2 separate regions of the Homo sapiens genome follow, and region 2 is linked to region 1. Evidence: fine-mapped expression QTL. Tissue or cell type: whole blood. Region 1 holds a variant in brackets; the other region holds the start of a gene. All regions are shown on one strand. Distances are between the middles of the regions.

Region 1 (8,109 bases):
TTTTTGAAACGAAGTCTTGCCGTGTCACCCAGCCTGGGTGCAGTGGTGCAATCATGGCTCACTGCAGCCTCGACCTCCTGGGCTCAAGCCATCCTCCCACCTCAGCCTCCCAAAGTGCCAGGATTACAGGCATGAGCCACTGTGCCTGGCCTGTTCTGTATCTTGACTGTGCCAATGTCAATATCCTGGTTGTGATATTATTCTATAATTTTGCAAGATGTTACCACGGGAGGAAACTGGATAAGTGATACAAAGGATCTCTCTATAATATTTCTTACATCTGCACATTAATTGGCAATTATCTAAAATAAAAATTCAGTTAAAAAAATTTTTTTTGTAAATTGGGAGCGTGGGTGGAGGATACAGGTAGGGGAGTAGGAGGAGAGTGAATAATCTAGATAAGCTTCCCATGAAACATTCATCCTAAAGAAGAAAGCAGGCACGGTACCATCGACCTCTCAGACTGAAGCATCCAAGGCAGCAGGAACTGTGCCCATCTTCTTCGTCACTGGATTGCGAGTGCTTCAAACTACACTGATGTATCGGGGATTAAGACAAGAGTTCCTCTCTACCCAAATAGTAGCATTAAGAGATTAAGGAACAATGAGTTGTCCCACTCTGCTTGATTCCTCAGTTTTGAGCAACAAAGAATTCATCCAAAATATGCACTTGACTCCATTTGGTTCCTGAGTTGACTAAGAAACTGACAGAGACTGAGAGGGTAGGAATAAAGCCCCAGAGGAAAGATACTGAGTGGAACTTTACAGAATTGCATGGCTGTTAAATGCATCCATCCCAAGCCCTCCCCCTGGAGAGATAAAAACTGACCTAGGTGTCTGAGTTAACCTCTCTCACATTGGAATCATGTTAACACTGCTCTGGGAGCCTCTAACAAAGTGTAATTCCATGAAGAGAGAGCCACTCTCTCCTGTTCTGCCATAGACCACCAAATAACCTTGACATCCCGGGGAATGGAAGTGAATGCTACCAGAAAAAGGGTGGGGCCTGTGGCTACAGGAAAGAGGACTGCTCTAGGGAGGTGATGGCCACATAGTGGGGTCTGGGCAGTGATCCAGGGCAGTATGACATTCATCAGGGCCCCAGAACCAGGGAAGCCATCGGAAGGGAAACTTATTCCTGAGCACACACGTGAAATACCTCTTGGGGACTCCGAGGACCAATCAAGAGGGAATTTGCAGGAGACTGAGCAGGCAGAAACCAGAATCAGGTAATTGGGACATTAGAGTTTTTTTTTAAATTGATGTTGCTATATACAATATTGCTCCTAATTTTCACTGGAGATTTAGATTTGGGATCAGAAGACCCCAACCCCAAGCTTCAGGCTTTTTGTCTTTTACACTGGCATGGTAATGTCTGCTCTGCCTACTTCGCAAGGCTGTTACTTTTTTTTTTTTTTTTTTTTTTTAAGATACAGGGTCCTGCCGTGTTGCCCAGGCTGGAGTGCAGTGGCTATTCATAGCACACCACAGCCTAGAACTTCTGGGCTCAAATGATCTTCCTACTTCAGCCTCCCAAGTAGCTGGGACTTTAGGAGCATGTCACAGCACCCAGCTTTAGACTATTACTTTGAGAATTACATGAAATAATATAGGTGAGAAAGCTTTTGAAATCAGCAAATACTATTTGAATGTGATTTTTGATATCATTATCTTACAAATGCTTCATTATCTCCACTGTTACTTCCCTCCTATCATCTTTTCTTCTGAAGGCTTAATAATTTCTAAGCCCCCTTTTTGTGCCCTCTATAAAACACTGTGGTATTTGAGGTCCTGTGTGTCCTGAAACTATTTTGAGGTGCACATATGTGGTGGTCTTTACCTTTCTGAAATCATTTAACAGTTGTCCTGGGACCAGAATCTTCTGCAATTCCTTGGCCCCATGCCCAGGGCTCTGCTAAGGGTCTGAACATGGGCATGGGGCTAAATGTGGAGAGAGGAGCCAGTTACCCAGGGGCTAGAAATTAGAAAATGTGCTCAAGGTTTAGGCTCCTTGTATTAGTCCGTTTTATAACTGCTATAAAGAGCTGTCCAAGACTGGGTAATTTATAAAGAAAAGAGGTTTAACAGACTCACAGTTCAGCATGGCTCGGGAGGCCTCACAGAAAACATGCAATCATAGCGGAAGACGAAGGAGAAGAAATGTACCTTCTTCACCAGACTGCAGAAAGGAGAGCAATGGAGGAAGATCCCCTTATAAAACCATCAGATCTCGTGAGAACTCACTCACTATCACGAGAACAACATGGGGGAAACCACCCATATGATTCAATTACCTCCACCTGGTCTCTCCCTTGACACCTGGGGATTATGGGAATTCTAATTCAAGCTGAGATTTGGGTGGGTACATAAAACCTAACCACATCACTCCTGATGGTCCAATTCATAAAATTTTACAAGACCATTACCTGGAAATTAGGGGGTGGTAGCAAACCCTGAAAATGAGGGAGCTGAGAGGCAAGAAATCAGAGGCCCTACATCTGGAACCACCTCCTCCACAGGACCCTGCTTCTACTTCCAGAGCTGATGCCACAGGTTGGGACTTCCTGCTCCAGGTTCCAGCCAGGGAAACAGAGCCAGCTCCTCACACATGCTTCAGGTAGGCAGAGGAAGAGCAAAAAAGAGACCCCCATACCTTTTATTCCAGCAGCTCTGGGGAAAGGTTTACTTTCAAGGAAAATAGGGAAATGCACTAATTCAGAGTCATCAATTAACTCCGTCACTTACAAGATGTGGGACTCTGGCTTCAACCTACTCCTCTGAAACAGGAATAGTGTGCCTATTCAAAATATCTTGCAGGCAGCAGATCAAACAATCGGTTGTATCTTTTTTTAAAAAATCAGTTGAGAGTTAAAAAACAAAACAACTAAAAATTGTTTTGTAAATTTCAAGCATACAAATGCAAAGGATATGTATTTCCTATAGCCTAGGATCTCCAGGTCCCTAATAAGGGAGGCCAGCTATGATTGTTTGCTGGGATGCATGTTTCATTTAGAGATGCAGCTGAATAAGTCTTGGTTTTTTTTTGGTTTGTTTGTTTGTTTGTTTTTTCAGTATTAAAAGACCTTTCAGGCCAGGCGTGGTGGCTCAAACCTGTAATCCCAGCACTTTGGGAGCCCGAGGCAGGTGGATCATGATGTCAGGGGTTCAAGACTAGCCTGGCCAAGATGGTGAAACCCCGTCTCTACTAAAAATACAGAAATTAGTTGGGCATGGTGGTGGGCGCCTGTAATCCCAGCAACTCGGGAGGCTGAGGCAGGCAATTGCTTGAACCCGGGAAGCAGAGGTTGCACTGAACCGAGATCGTGCCACTGCACTCCAGCCTGGGTGACAGAGCAAGACTCCTTCTCAAAACAAACAAACAAACAAACAAACAAACAAACAAAAAACCTTTCAGAAACACATTGGTACTCCTAAGCTTTTACATATGTTCATAAGCCTTTAAATTAGGGTGGAGGAAAAATTATCTCAATTCCTGAAAAGATAGACATTAAAAGGAACCACCAAATAAAGGCAAACCCATTTTCCAGGTGCTAGAAAAGGGTGAGGAGTGGTACAATCTATGCAAGGCCAGGTGTGTGAGAAAACCATGGTACCTGAAAGCCTGGGTAAAAGAGCTGAGAATAGGATACAAAGGGTTCAGCCCCCCAGGTAGCCAAATGCCGCTGCAGGCTAGGGCTCCCTCCCTCCCTCCCTCCCTCCCTGCTTCGCTTTCTCCCTCCCTCTCTCCTTTTTCCCTTTCTTTCTTCCTTCTGTGGAGTTCCTAAATCATGGTTTCTTGAGAAACAGGATATTGGAGCTTCAAGGCAGAGGTCCCCAACATCTTAAGGAGCCTGGAGGTCATGATTCCTTGCCAAGGTGGGAATCACACTCCATCTTGGACTTCCGAGGCTAGGCAGAGTTAGGCATTTTCTCATCTGGGCTCCATAGGCCTGGGCCCACAGTTTTTTTCAGCATCTCTCTCACTGCACTGTAGCCATTTATTCACCAGAATGCATCCTTCCTGACCTGCGAGCTCTTCCAGAGCATGAACAGAGGAGTATAATGGTTTGGCACCCCGCCTTTGGTGCCAGAGAAACCTAGGTTCACACTCTGATTAGACCCTTCAGGGGCTGTGTGATTTTTCTGGGAGAATGAAATTAGATACCATCTATAAAAATCTGGACTTATGGTATAACCAATATGTGGCAGCTGCTATTACTTTAACTTGTTCTTCTGTATACAAATAATAATAGCTTTATCTGTTAGGATTCAGTGCAGGAAACAGAAATTGCTTCACTTACATTGAGTAGGAAGGGATTTAGTCAAGGGATAATGTGCTTGCAAAACGGTTAGAAGGGCTGAAGGAGCAGGTTCTAGGCTGGGGCTCACAAAGCAGTATAGAAATTAACCACCACCTCTAGGGCACCTCTGGAGCTGTGCTGGAATCCAGAAGTGACTGCTGCCTCTGCTACAATTCCTGCCTCTCGATACCCAAGAAGCTGGAGAATGGACTCTGGAACTCTGATGCAGAAAAACCTCCTATTTCCCCAGCTTTGCTGGCCAGCAAAATGGCTACAAAGGGGTGCAGCTTCTGCTTTGCACATCTTGCACTGAGTGCCTCTACTTGGCAGAAGACAGCTTGCTTCTAGAACCCCGACTGCAAAGGAGCCTTGGAATCATGGTGCTCAGCTTTCCAACTTCACCCAGCAAGAGGCAGGAATGAAGGTTGAGTGACCATCCACACCACAGCTGGCACTTTCAGCTGTCATTGGCCTCACAGCACCACAGTTAGGTAAGTGCCCATTTCACA[A/C]ATGAGGAAGCAGAGCCTTCAGGAAGTTACCTTGTCTGCCCCGGGTCACAGAGGAAGGGGTGAAGAAGCAATGTAAACAGGTTCTATCTTAATCAAAGTCTATGCCCTTAACTACCATTTTTTCTAATCCTCCCTGCATCTTGAATGCCTAACTCTGCATGTGGCCACACCTACTGAATGAATGTTAGAGTTCATTCATCATGAGTTTAAACAGAAAATTACACCAACTTAGAATGCTGTGGCCTAGAGAAAGTGTCTTTACCTCCTGAGTGCGACCCAAGTCAGGAGGCAGGAGGCTGACTGAGGGACACGGAGGAGGTATGCACACTCACAGCATGAGGCAGAGCTGTGTGCACACATCAAGCAAGGAAATGGGGCCGGAATATGGGGCAAAGGCCTACGGATTGAATGGTGGATTTGGATGTGGGCCACTTCTTCCAGCCCCTGAAAGAGGACCAGGCAATGTGGCTATGAATGGGCCTAATGAGAATTGATTGATTCGCTCGAGATGTTTTCTTTTTCTTCCTAAAATAGAAAATGACATACCCCATGATTCATGCACTCCGGTGCCCGTGATAATGGCCTCTTCAGTGCACTGACTCTGCTGATAACCACAGGCACTCATCCTCCGCAGAGGGGTTGTGTGCCACACCCTAGGCACATAGCAACCCTGCAGGCTGTCAGACACCTGCCGCAGAGAGTGCTTTCCACACGCTCTCTGGGACATGAGGCACAGTTCCCAGGAGTGCCTGAGAAATCTCAGTTGCCTGGCATAGATGCTAAGGCCTGAGAGAAGAGCCCAGAGTCTAGGCCTGAGGGGCTGCAGTCTGCACACAGGAGTTAACTCATACACATATACAACCCACAAAGCCACACACATACATAGCACAAATACACACACAGATAGACACAGCACACACAGACACATACATCACACACACACAGACACAAACATGCACACTACACACATGCACAGCCCACATAAACACCCACAGAGTTGCAAATATACACAGCACAAATACACACACAAATAGACCACACGCAGAGAGACACATCACACATACACACAGATACAAATATACACACCACACACAAACACAGAGAGACACACACACCACACATACAACACACACAAACATACACACTACACACATACACAACCCAATAAACACCCACAGAGCCACAAACATATGTAACACAAATACACAGAGAGACACACCATGCAAAGACCCAGAGAAACACCATATACCACACATATGCACACACAAACGTGCACACCCAACACATCACCACGTGCAACACATACACCATACACGGAAACACATGAAGACACTTACGTACACCACACACACATATACACACACAGACACAAACATACGCAGCGCACACACACCACACACATACGCAGGCTCATGCACATACTCTACAAAAAGTGCCTCACTACAGGACAGCCATATCCTAAAAGGCTTAAAATAATGGTTATATGGCCTACAAACGCAGAAGGTGTGTATACAAACCAGTAAAAGAAATGAAAGAAAGCATCAAAAATGGTAAATACACGAAGATAAAATCCCTGTTGAAATGCACGCATGATATTTATTGGGATTGGAGGACAATTCAGGCAACACAAATAATTGATATTTAGTAATCTTTGGATTGTTCCTTGTGAACTTATTCAGTTGAACAGCACATTTTTTCAAGTGGCTGCCCTTTAGCCCCTGTACACTCACTGTGTGGCCACTGACTTACACCCACTGGGCATCTGCCAAGTCCCTACCTCATCTCCCTCCCTTCCAAATGTACCTGTCTGGGGACAGCCCTGCAGAGCCCCTGCAGCGCCTGTTTGATGATAGAGCTTGCCACCCAGTCCCTCTCATTCTTCCAAGCTCCTTTCCTGCCCAAGTCAGGAAAGTCCCACAGTTCTTGTCTCATAGTACACACAGGGAAGTTCAGGGATTTGGTGCTAACTTTAGTTAGACCCCGGCTTCCCAGAGCCCTGATTTCTTCCAGGGCTATAGCAGTTTATCTCTGTGTGCCCAGGGGGTGCTCAGGCCCAGGAATTGTGAATATTAGATGTTCCCTTTAGTATTTCTAAGATCCTATAGGGAAGAGTGGGAAATTGAAGTTAAGGGACAACTAGCAGGTGAGAATGACAGCTGGGGATTATTGACCAAGAAGGAAAGGATGGGCTGGTTGTAAATATACCTTCAAGACCCATTATCTTACTGAACTTGAAAGCTAGAGGGGAATGTACAGAGACCATCAGCTATAACCCCTTCATCTTCCAGATGTAGAATCTGAGGCCAGAAGAGTGAAACAATATGTCTAAAGTCAAAACCAATTAATTAGAAGCGACTCTGTGATCGCAAATGTAGAATTCTTCCCTAATGGAGCACTGGTTACCATTTTCTATTTTCTGATTCTATGGTATTATTTCACCGACTTGATGTATGGACCAAGATATTATTCTGGATTTGAGATTTTATTAGAGAAGCTAACAAAGTAAACATACTTTATTTAGGACTTTCCATTTTATTAGATGAATATTATATTCCTCTTTTCCTAAAGCAGGAGATGCTTATGTTGGACAACCAACTTTTATATAATATAATATAGAATATATATAATTTTATATATAACATAATATAGAATATTATTATTTCATTTAACATTTAAATAGTCCTGCCAGGTGGATACTACACATTTTATAATCAAGAGAGGAACAGTAGTTCTGGGAACGTGATTAAAGATGAATGAAGATCAACCCACTCAAGTTGGTCTGGCTTCCATGTCATGGAATTTCTGCATTGCCACTCTGCTTTGCAAGCTTAGGAGACACCTGCTGTGGTTTGAATGTTCATCCCCTCAAAACTCTTGTTAGCCTGAGTAGAGGGCACCCTGCACTCACTCTCCTGCCACCACAGTTGGCAACTTTTAGGAGCATATTCTTGCTCTACTGTGGTTGATTTGTATTTTGTTTTTCCTTCTTTGTTTTTCCTTTCCTATAATATAATATAATATAATATAATATAATATAATATAATATAGAATATTATATAAAAGGCACAACACAAGTTGGTTGTCCAACACAAACATCTCCTGCTTTAAGAAAGTTCAAAATAGAAAAATAATAAAAGTATGATTGCCTCATTACAAAATATATTTTATAGTAGGGTTTTTGTTTTTTGAAAAGATGTTCCCACTACATATTTCAACTCTGAAGTTTTCAGGGATAACTCAAGAAAAAATGGTATAAGTCAAGAAAAATAATGAATGTATATGTACTTTTGGCAAACTAAT
Region 2 (8,090 bases), 160 kb after region 1:
TAATATGTATACCCTGGCACCTGTACCTGATCTTATAGCCCTTCCTATTTGAGTTCCAAGTAAGACCATTGTACCAATTCCTTAAAAGAAATATATCAGATACTCCCTTCCCAAATGTCTTCCAGGAGACAAGCTGAAGCATTCTGTTATCACTACCATCCTATCAATCACTTAAAATATTGAGATAGTGAAGGATTCTGATTCTTCCATTAGGTAATGTGTTGCATCCTTCTTATGCCCCCAGTGTATTCTGGCAAGTTATGTCCTTATTTTATAGATGAGGGAACAGACGACTAGCAGGATGACTTACTCTAGGATGCTCCCTTATCACCTATCCACCTTTCCCACTGTTTTGAAGGCTGCTTGGTCTCTCTAGCTGACTGAGTTCTCTGAAGGCAGAGACGAGACTCTCACTTTGTATCTTCAGTGTCTGTGCACTATCATCTGCCACATAGCAAGTACACAATATAGGCTTTGTATTATGATCATTCACTTACTCAAAAAGGAAAAGTAAACTACCCTAAACTAGGTAGGATATGATACTTTCCTCTGGCCCCTTTCCAGAAGAGGGAAGACTATGGCTTGTTCTAGACTGAAAAATGAAGGTCACAACTATAATCTAACTGTAGCTCCTAGAGGGATACGCAATTAGTTTAAGAATTTCCAAAAGTGGCATCAACTAAAAATTAGTCCTATTTAAAAACCATTGTAGAGCATTTGCTTCACATCTAGAAGCCAGTGATATGAGTATTAAACACAGTTTTCTAAGAGTTTGTAAACTAGATGGCATTCTCAGGTTAGAGCAGTGGTTTTCTGAGGGTGCCTTAGAGCCAGCTAAGTGGGGATGTCCAGGTCGGCAACCTCTAAGCCCCATGCCAACTCTCCATAAACCAGACTTAGTTTTTCTTCAATACACTGGCCTACGTGCACAATTCCATTGAAATAAAGGGTTCCATCGTCGCTCTGCTTTGAGGCAGTGTAGGAGCTTAATGTTGACTGAATAAAGTCTGAAAAGCCCTGCCTTAGAAAACCTTTACAAACAGAAGAAAGAGGCCTAATCCAGAGGCTGAGTCAAAGGCTGCTGCCCACCCCTCTGCAGATCCCACCCAGCATGTGCTCCACTCCACATTGCTGTCTCACCTTCCACACACTTGGGCTCACTGTCCAGGGTCCGGGTCTTGCAGCGCAGTCCTTCTCCAGTACCATCGATCCAGATATACATGGCCTGGACTTTCTCACCCTGAGGCAGGGACATGTACACCTGCTTGATGCCTTTATTTAAGTGGGAACTTGCTGAGGTGGTCATGGTGGAAGGTGTTCTGGAGAAGAAAAAAAGAATAACATTGTTAACGCCCACTCCAAACTGATCCCCTGCAAAAATGGCTCAAGAAGGACGACTGAATCAAAAGTCAGAGTGTAAGTGCCAACTCCTTCCCTTGTGGAAGTCAACACACAAAAAGTTATGTTTACTCACTCTTTCAGGGGGATTAGTTTTATAGTAGGCAAAAATCTCCTTTATAATAGGCTGTAAAACTGATCACCACCTTTTGAAACAATTAACACAGATGCCTGCTAAAGAAAAGATCAGGCCCTTGGTAGTAACTCAATGCCTCTGCATCCCTGAGCTCACAGGCTTAAGTTCCACAGCTACTGCAGAACCCAGGCTTCCAAGCTAGAACTTATACTTGTGAGGACTAAGGTCTATTCCTTCAGTGTAGCTGAGGTTAACACTAAACTATCCAAATACTAAACTATCAGAGGAAACAAATCAAAACCAATACACAAATTTACAAAACATAGAACTTCTTCCAATATAAGTAAAATCCAGCCACAGAACAGGCTTGGCTTCCACAGTTTGTTTTTCTCTTTGTCTTTCATCCTAGCTGTGGTCTTAACTCAAACCCACCGCCCCTCCCCACCAAAAGAAAACTCATTACACATTTAGATTTGAGGATGAAACAAGGTTACAATATATTTTTTTAGAAGGCTAGCAGTTTCCTACACAAAAGCTGATTCAAGCCAGATTCTAAGGGGAATGCTGCCATAATTTCCATAGGTCTCATGCAAAGTCTCACTTAAGATAGTGGGCAAGAATCACAACATTATGGAATTCTACAAGACTTGTCAAGTAATTAGGAAATTTCCACTTCTAAATCAAAAAGATCTGGAAATTTAAAAGCCATGAGGCATACTAATAACTGCCAGCCACTACCACAAAACCTCCGAAAGAAGAGAAACTCTCAAGCCACAACAGCCGAAGAGGAAACATTCTCTCTCTCCCTCCTCCCTCCGTGGACCAGGGTGGCTAGAAAGGGAACACATTGTTCTCCTCCAACGACTAGGGCAACGTTCTGAAGTACAGTGGCAAAGTTTCTACGGGCAACCGTCCATGTTTGCCCAGCTGAAAACATAACTGCTTCTCCCTCAGCCTCACCACCCTTCCCCTTGGGGAAGACCAACACCCCAATATTGCCTCTAGAAGACTCAGCCGGCCAAATCCTACTTCCCACCTCCATCCCAGAACCCTTTAGCTCCCGCTAAAAGCTACAACCCACCGAAGCGGGCAGATCACCTGAGGTACAAAGTTCGAGACCAGCCTGGCCAACACGATGAAACTCCCGTCTCTACTAAAAATACAAAAATTAGCCGGGCGTGGTTGTGCACGCCTGTAATCCCAGCTACTCGGGAGGCTGACACAGGAGAATCGCCTGAACCCCAGAGGCAGAGGTTGCAGTGAGCCGGGAGATTGCACCACTGCACTCCAACCTGGGTAACAGATAGAGACTCTGTCGGAAAACAAAAAAAAAAAACCTACAACCCAATTTCTCGGCTGTCCTCTCCAACATGTTACACCACCAATATCATGCACACTTTGTCCTAAGCCTCAGTTTCGGATCTCTTGCTCTTTTCCGTGAGCCGAGTTGCATGCCAGCAGCCTAGTGCCACTCTATCAACTGCTGCTGCTGCGGTGCCAAGTTTACGTGGGGGAAATGGATTCTGAAGTTTTCAGCAGTTTCTGCAGCTCCCACCAACTCCGGGGTCGTCCTCCCTGCCCCCTCACTCACCCCAGCCACAGAAAGTCAAGCGTATCGTTAGGGTTGCCCTCTTTAACCCTTCTCTTTTTGGAGTGGCGTTCGCGCCTCTCCTCTTTCTCAGACTCTAGCTGGTCCAAGCACCGGAGCTTTCTGGGAGAGGGCGATGGAGAAGGGGACAGACAGCGGCCGGCCCGGGGGGTGTCCGAACAGGCAGGTTGGTGGGTTAAGGTCTTAATCTTGACTCGAGATCTCTCCCCGGAGTTCACAGAGTAGGCGACGAAGCCGAAGCAGCTGGAGCGCGACCCGGAGGAGTCTGACTTCTCGTTGTCTTCATAATTTTCATTCGTTGCTTTCTTCGTGGACTTGCGGCTGGGGGAGGATCCCCGCTTCCCGCCCCCGAGGGAGTTATAATTATCCACTTTGAGAGCAGCCCCTTCCCACTGAAATGTCCCTAAAGTGGGCGCCCTGCCCCTCGGGCCCCCGTCCGAATCTCAGGGCCTCACGGAGGTGGCCATACCCTGCCGCCGAGGGGTTGGGGGGTCCGGGGGAGGGTGGGGGCGCAGGCCGTAGGGACTGCGCGCTGCTGCTGCCTCCGCCCGGACCGGCTTCTCCACTGACTGCGCCGAGGCCCGGGCTCTCCATTGTTCGGTCACATTGGAAGGCCCCCGGGACCCCGAGGCGGGAGCCGGCCGCCCAAACAACGCTCACCGTTACACGCCGCAATCGAGGCGTCTCAACCATCGCCAGAACCAGGACGATTGCTCCGAAGGCCCCACCACGAGGAAGGCAGCCAGGCGCCCGCGCCAACCAAGCGCCTTGTTTGCGCTCCACAGGGGACCGCACCGCCACTCCATCCACAGCGCAAACAAACCACTGCGAGCCCCAGGGCGCAGGCCGGCCCAACGGCCTCCAGGGGCGGCGCTTCGGCCGCAAGTAGTGAAAAGAAGATCAAAACAACTCACCCCGCCCTTCCCAGAGCCTGGCCAAGGGCGCGCCCCACCAGCGCCAGCCCCGACGGGTCCAAGCCACCAGCGGCGGAAGCACGCGGGAGGAGCACTCATGCCGGATCTCAGGCATGGGCCGGAGAGGCCGCAGCGTAGGGCTGGGACTGGAGGGGCAGGCAGCCGAAAAAAGAGGCTGGGCGGCGCGCCTCGCGGGGTAGCAGGGGCGGCGCGCCTCGCTTGCGTGACACCGGGCCGTCCGGGGGCTTACCTGGTCGCCGAGCAGGCGGGCGGGTAAAGCTAGGCCGCGAGAGCGAGGTTAGGAGAGGAGAGGAGGCCGCAGTACTGCTCACACGCTCCGCTCTTCTCCCACTCTCGACTCTGCAGAGCCGCCAGCAGCCCCGCACCCTTTATCCGCGGCCCGGGGCCGCCCCCGGTGCCCTGATTGGCTCCCAGCGGCCAGGAGCCCGGGCCGATCAGCTGATGCGGTCCCGGGCCCCGCGGCCATTGGGCGAGGAGCCCGGCGGGCGCCGCTGGGGTGGGGGCAAGCGAACTGGGAAAGAAAGAAAGAAAGAGAAAGGGGCGTGGGGGAGGGGCAGGGCGGCGTGGGGGAAGGGAGCGGAGCCGGGAGGGCTGAGGGCAGAGGGGCGAGTTGCCGCCAGGCCGGGAAGCCTCGGCTCGCCGCCCACCCGCCAGCTCGCCAGGTGCCGCCCCACGGCCCCCAACCCGGGGTCCCGAGGCTCCCAGCAAAGCCCGCCCTGGACCTCTGCCCTGCCGCCTTCACGGGGAATAGTTTTACGAGGAGAGCTCCCTGGGGAAATGCGGAACCAGGGAAACCGAATTTAGCCTTTTGTTGCGAGGGAGCCTCCGAGCCCCGCTTCCTGCGGGCAGGGGTTAGCTTGAGAGGGAGCGCGGGGCGCGGGACCCGAGGGAACTTTGGGCGGGCCTGGGCTAGGGCGGGTGCCGCGCGGGCCTGGGGACAGGCCGGGGTTCCCAAGGCCTGGAAGAGCCGCCCGCTCCGGCTCTCTTGGGTCTGGGGAAATAAACAGAACTCTGCCATTTCACATTTGAAATCAACGTGCTGTTTCTCTAATTTTACAGAGAGGATTCTGGAGGGCGGTAGAAACTAAGTCTGGAGACCTGTCTCATACTGCTGGCCAGACCCTAGGCAGGTCTTTCAGGGCCCAAGTTTCCTCATCTGCAAAATAAAGTGGTCATCGAAAATGACCTGTGGAGCCGCCCACTAGATTTGAAATTCTGTGTGCAAACTGCCCCCGGAGCAGCTGAAAGGAAATCGAGGTGTTCACTTGCCCCCTTTGAAGTCCAGGGATTGTCAAGAAATTCCTTTAACGAATTCTCCCTGATTTTGCTTTATCAAGTGCGGCTTCTTGTTAATCTGGAAAATGGGAATACATACCTCTCCTCTCAGCTTGCCGTGATGGTTGGGAAAATGTGTATGTGAACACAATATTGAAATGTACCTAGAGACACAACATAGGTAGGTAGGTAGGTAGGTAGGTAGATACTGCTATCCGTACTATTACTCGATCATTCTATTTTTAGTGCCTGAAATCTACCTGATGGTGTCCAGATTTTATTGCTTCTTTCAGTTTAAAGAGCAAGAATTTATGCTTCCAGTGCCTTTGGAAGAGGAAGGGAAGAAGTTTGTTCTGGTTATGTTTTGTACCGCAAATGTGGAAAAGAAATGTTGCCTGCAACCACACACACATAACTTGGCTTCTTTGGTCAACATCCCTTTCCTTTAAGAGTGTATAACACTGTAGTGCTTTTACATGACAGATGCAGCATTCATCTCAAACAGGGTTTTTTGGGATGTTTCAGACTGGTGACATTTTGGATTGGGTAAGGTGCCTTACAAATTCCTTGTTAAATTTCAGTGCTGCCCCTTGAAGCATTACATTGTGGTGGCTAAAGGCACGGCTGCAAGTCAGGTAAACCTAGGTTCAAATCTGGGCTTTCCCTTCATACCAGCTTTGTGTTGGCCAAATCACTTAGCCACATGAAGCCTGTTTCTTTGTCTATAATAAAAGAGGGATAATCATTTTTACCTCATAAAAGGATTAATTGTGATAGCACATGCAGAAGAGATTGAGTAGTCCTTGGTGCATCGTAAATGTTTAGAAAACAGCAATTATAATTATCATAGGCCAAGTTCTATAATCTGAGGTGATTGGATTCTTTCTTTCCCCATAGCGACTTTTGAATACAACTTTTCTGACTCAGTGTAATGCTTTACCATTCATTATATCAAACTGGACTTAACCTTGGTAACACAGTGAGCTGTCTTCATCTCTTTCTGTAAAGGTTTGAGTTTAAATGGTCGAGGAAGGGGAGCAAAGGAGGAGAAAAGTGATATTTTTATTTTAAAAGATGTTATTAATCATTTCCAGATACCAAACTACCGAACCATAAGCCAGAGCCTCTGCTGCACACACCACCAGCCCCTGAGGTGGGGATGACAAACATAACAGAGAACGGAATGGTAAGGCGTGAGTGCGGTTCTGCAGGCTTATGGTATTTCTGCCATTTGAGTGCCTGCTTCCCTTCCTAGATGTCTTGACCTCATTGAGCAGTTTATTCATTGTCATATCCCCCAGTAGTGTCCACGGTGAGTGTTCAATAAATGATATTTGTTAACCACACAGAAGTGACAGCAGCACCATCAAGAGAACATGTGCTTTGAGCTGCTTTTCCAAGAATGGAAATGGATTTGCTTTGATCCATTCATGTGACCAGGGGCACGCTTTGTAAGGGTTAGGAACATAATACATGACCACTGACTCTTTCAGGAGTGAACAAGAGGCCTTGTCCTCCTTGGCCAGCCCCACATTTACTTAAAATGATGAAATTAGGGCGCAGATGAGTCCAAGAACTGACCAGGGAGGCTTGAGCATAGGCGAGAAGTAAAAGCAGAAGAAAACCCTTAACTGGTTCACCCGCAGAAACCCAGACTGTACTTTTAGAGAAGTTAAAAGTAAAACAGCCTGTTTCATCCAGTTTGACTTTGCTGTGTCTGCTGCCCTTTCTTCTCCTTCCCCTTCTTCCCTAAATTGCCACCCGCCCCCATTCTTCACCCCCACCATAAAAAGAGCATTAGAATGCTTGAACCCATGAACTTTTCTGTTTCTTGGTACACACCATATCAGTGCTGACAAGGGGTTCCATTGCATGTGCTTTGAAGTCATATTTTTCTCTCTTAGAGTAGAATTGCCATGTCCAAGGGGTGGGTGGAGTGGGAGAGCAATTACAGGGAAAGATTTTGTTCCAAATCTGCAGAAATAGCCTGAGATTAAAAGTATTTCTTCAATGTTGTTCTGCTGCCTGAAATAAAAGCTTTGTATTAGGATTTTGCTCTACTCCCAAATCTTATCTCTATTAGGAAACAACTTTTCTCTTTTTTTTTTTTTTTTTTTTTTTTTTTTTTGAGACGGAGTCTTACTCTGTTGCTCAGGCTGGATGCAGTGGCGCAATCTCGGCTCACTGCAACCTCCACTCACTGTAACCTCTGCCTCCCGGGTTCAAGCAATTCTCCTGCCTCAGCCTCCCAAGGAGCTGGGATTACAGGCGTGTGCCACCACACCCAGCTAATTTTTTGGTATTTTTAGTAGAGACGAGGTTTCACCATATTGGCCAGACTTGTCTTGAACTCCTGACCTTGTGATCCGCCTGCCTCGGCCTCCCAAAGTGCTGCGATTACAGGCGTGAGCCACTGTGCCCGGCCCTTTCTCTGTCTTTTAAAGGATCCATTCTCACTCTGCAAGTATGAAGTCCTTTACCTGGGGATCTGGAGTGCCTTCCCAGGGCCTGTGTGGTTGCCTTATACACATTAGACACAAAATTTAGGGTAGGGCTCACATTGACCAAACCTTTTCTGTTTAGGAAATGGAGTTTTCCCTGTGTATGAATGATTTCAATAGGCATTCAGTGAGACCTTTAAATCATGTTAAAGAGATACAATTGAGACTCAGGGTTGGGGAACACCCTGGAAACCCAACCCAGAATTGTAAAATATTCTTTTAAAAATTATTATTATGTAATAAACCAACATCAGTTCTTTCCAAAAGAATGGACCATAGTAGAATCTTAAACCAAA

What was found. PIP is the estimated chance that this variant, and not a neighbour inherited with it, causes the effect.
Region 2: GLUL starts here. The variant in region 1 is fine-mapped to the expression of GLUL in whole blood (TOPMed, PIP above 0.99).

What each region holds. Positions count from the first base shown.
Region 1 is chr1:182,230,981-182,239,089 of GRCh38, forward strand. The region is part of intron 2 of LINC01344 (long intergenic non-protein coding RNA 1344); the gene reads right to left. Among named protein-coding and RNA genes, the nearest start is that of LINC01344, 79 kb to the right of the region's middle. The variant A/C (reference allele first, on the strand shown) is at 4,810.
Region 2 is chr1:182,387,432-182,395,521 of GRCh38, forward strand. It overlaps GLUL (glutamate-ammonia ligase), which reads right to left and starts at 4,359. Exons shown (of 7, transcript NM_001033044.4): 1 at 4,248-4,359; 2 at 1,141-1,319. The coding sequence starts at 1,306. RefSeq lists a silencer at 4,095-4,774.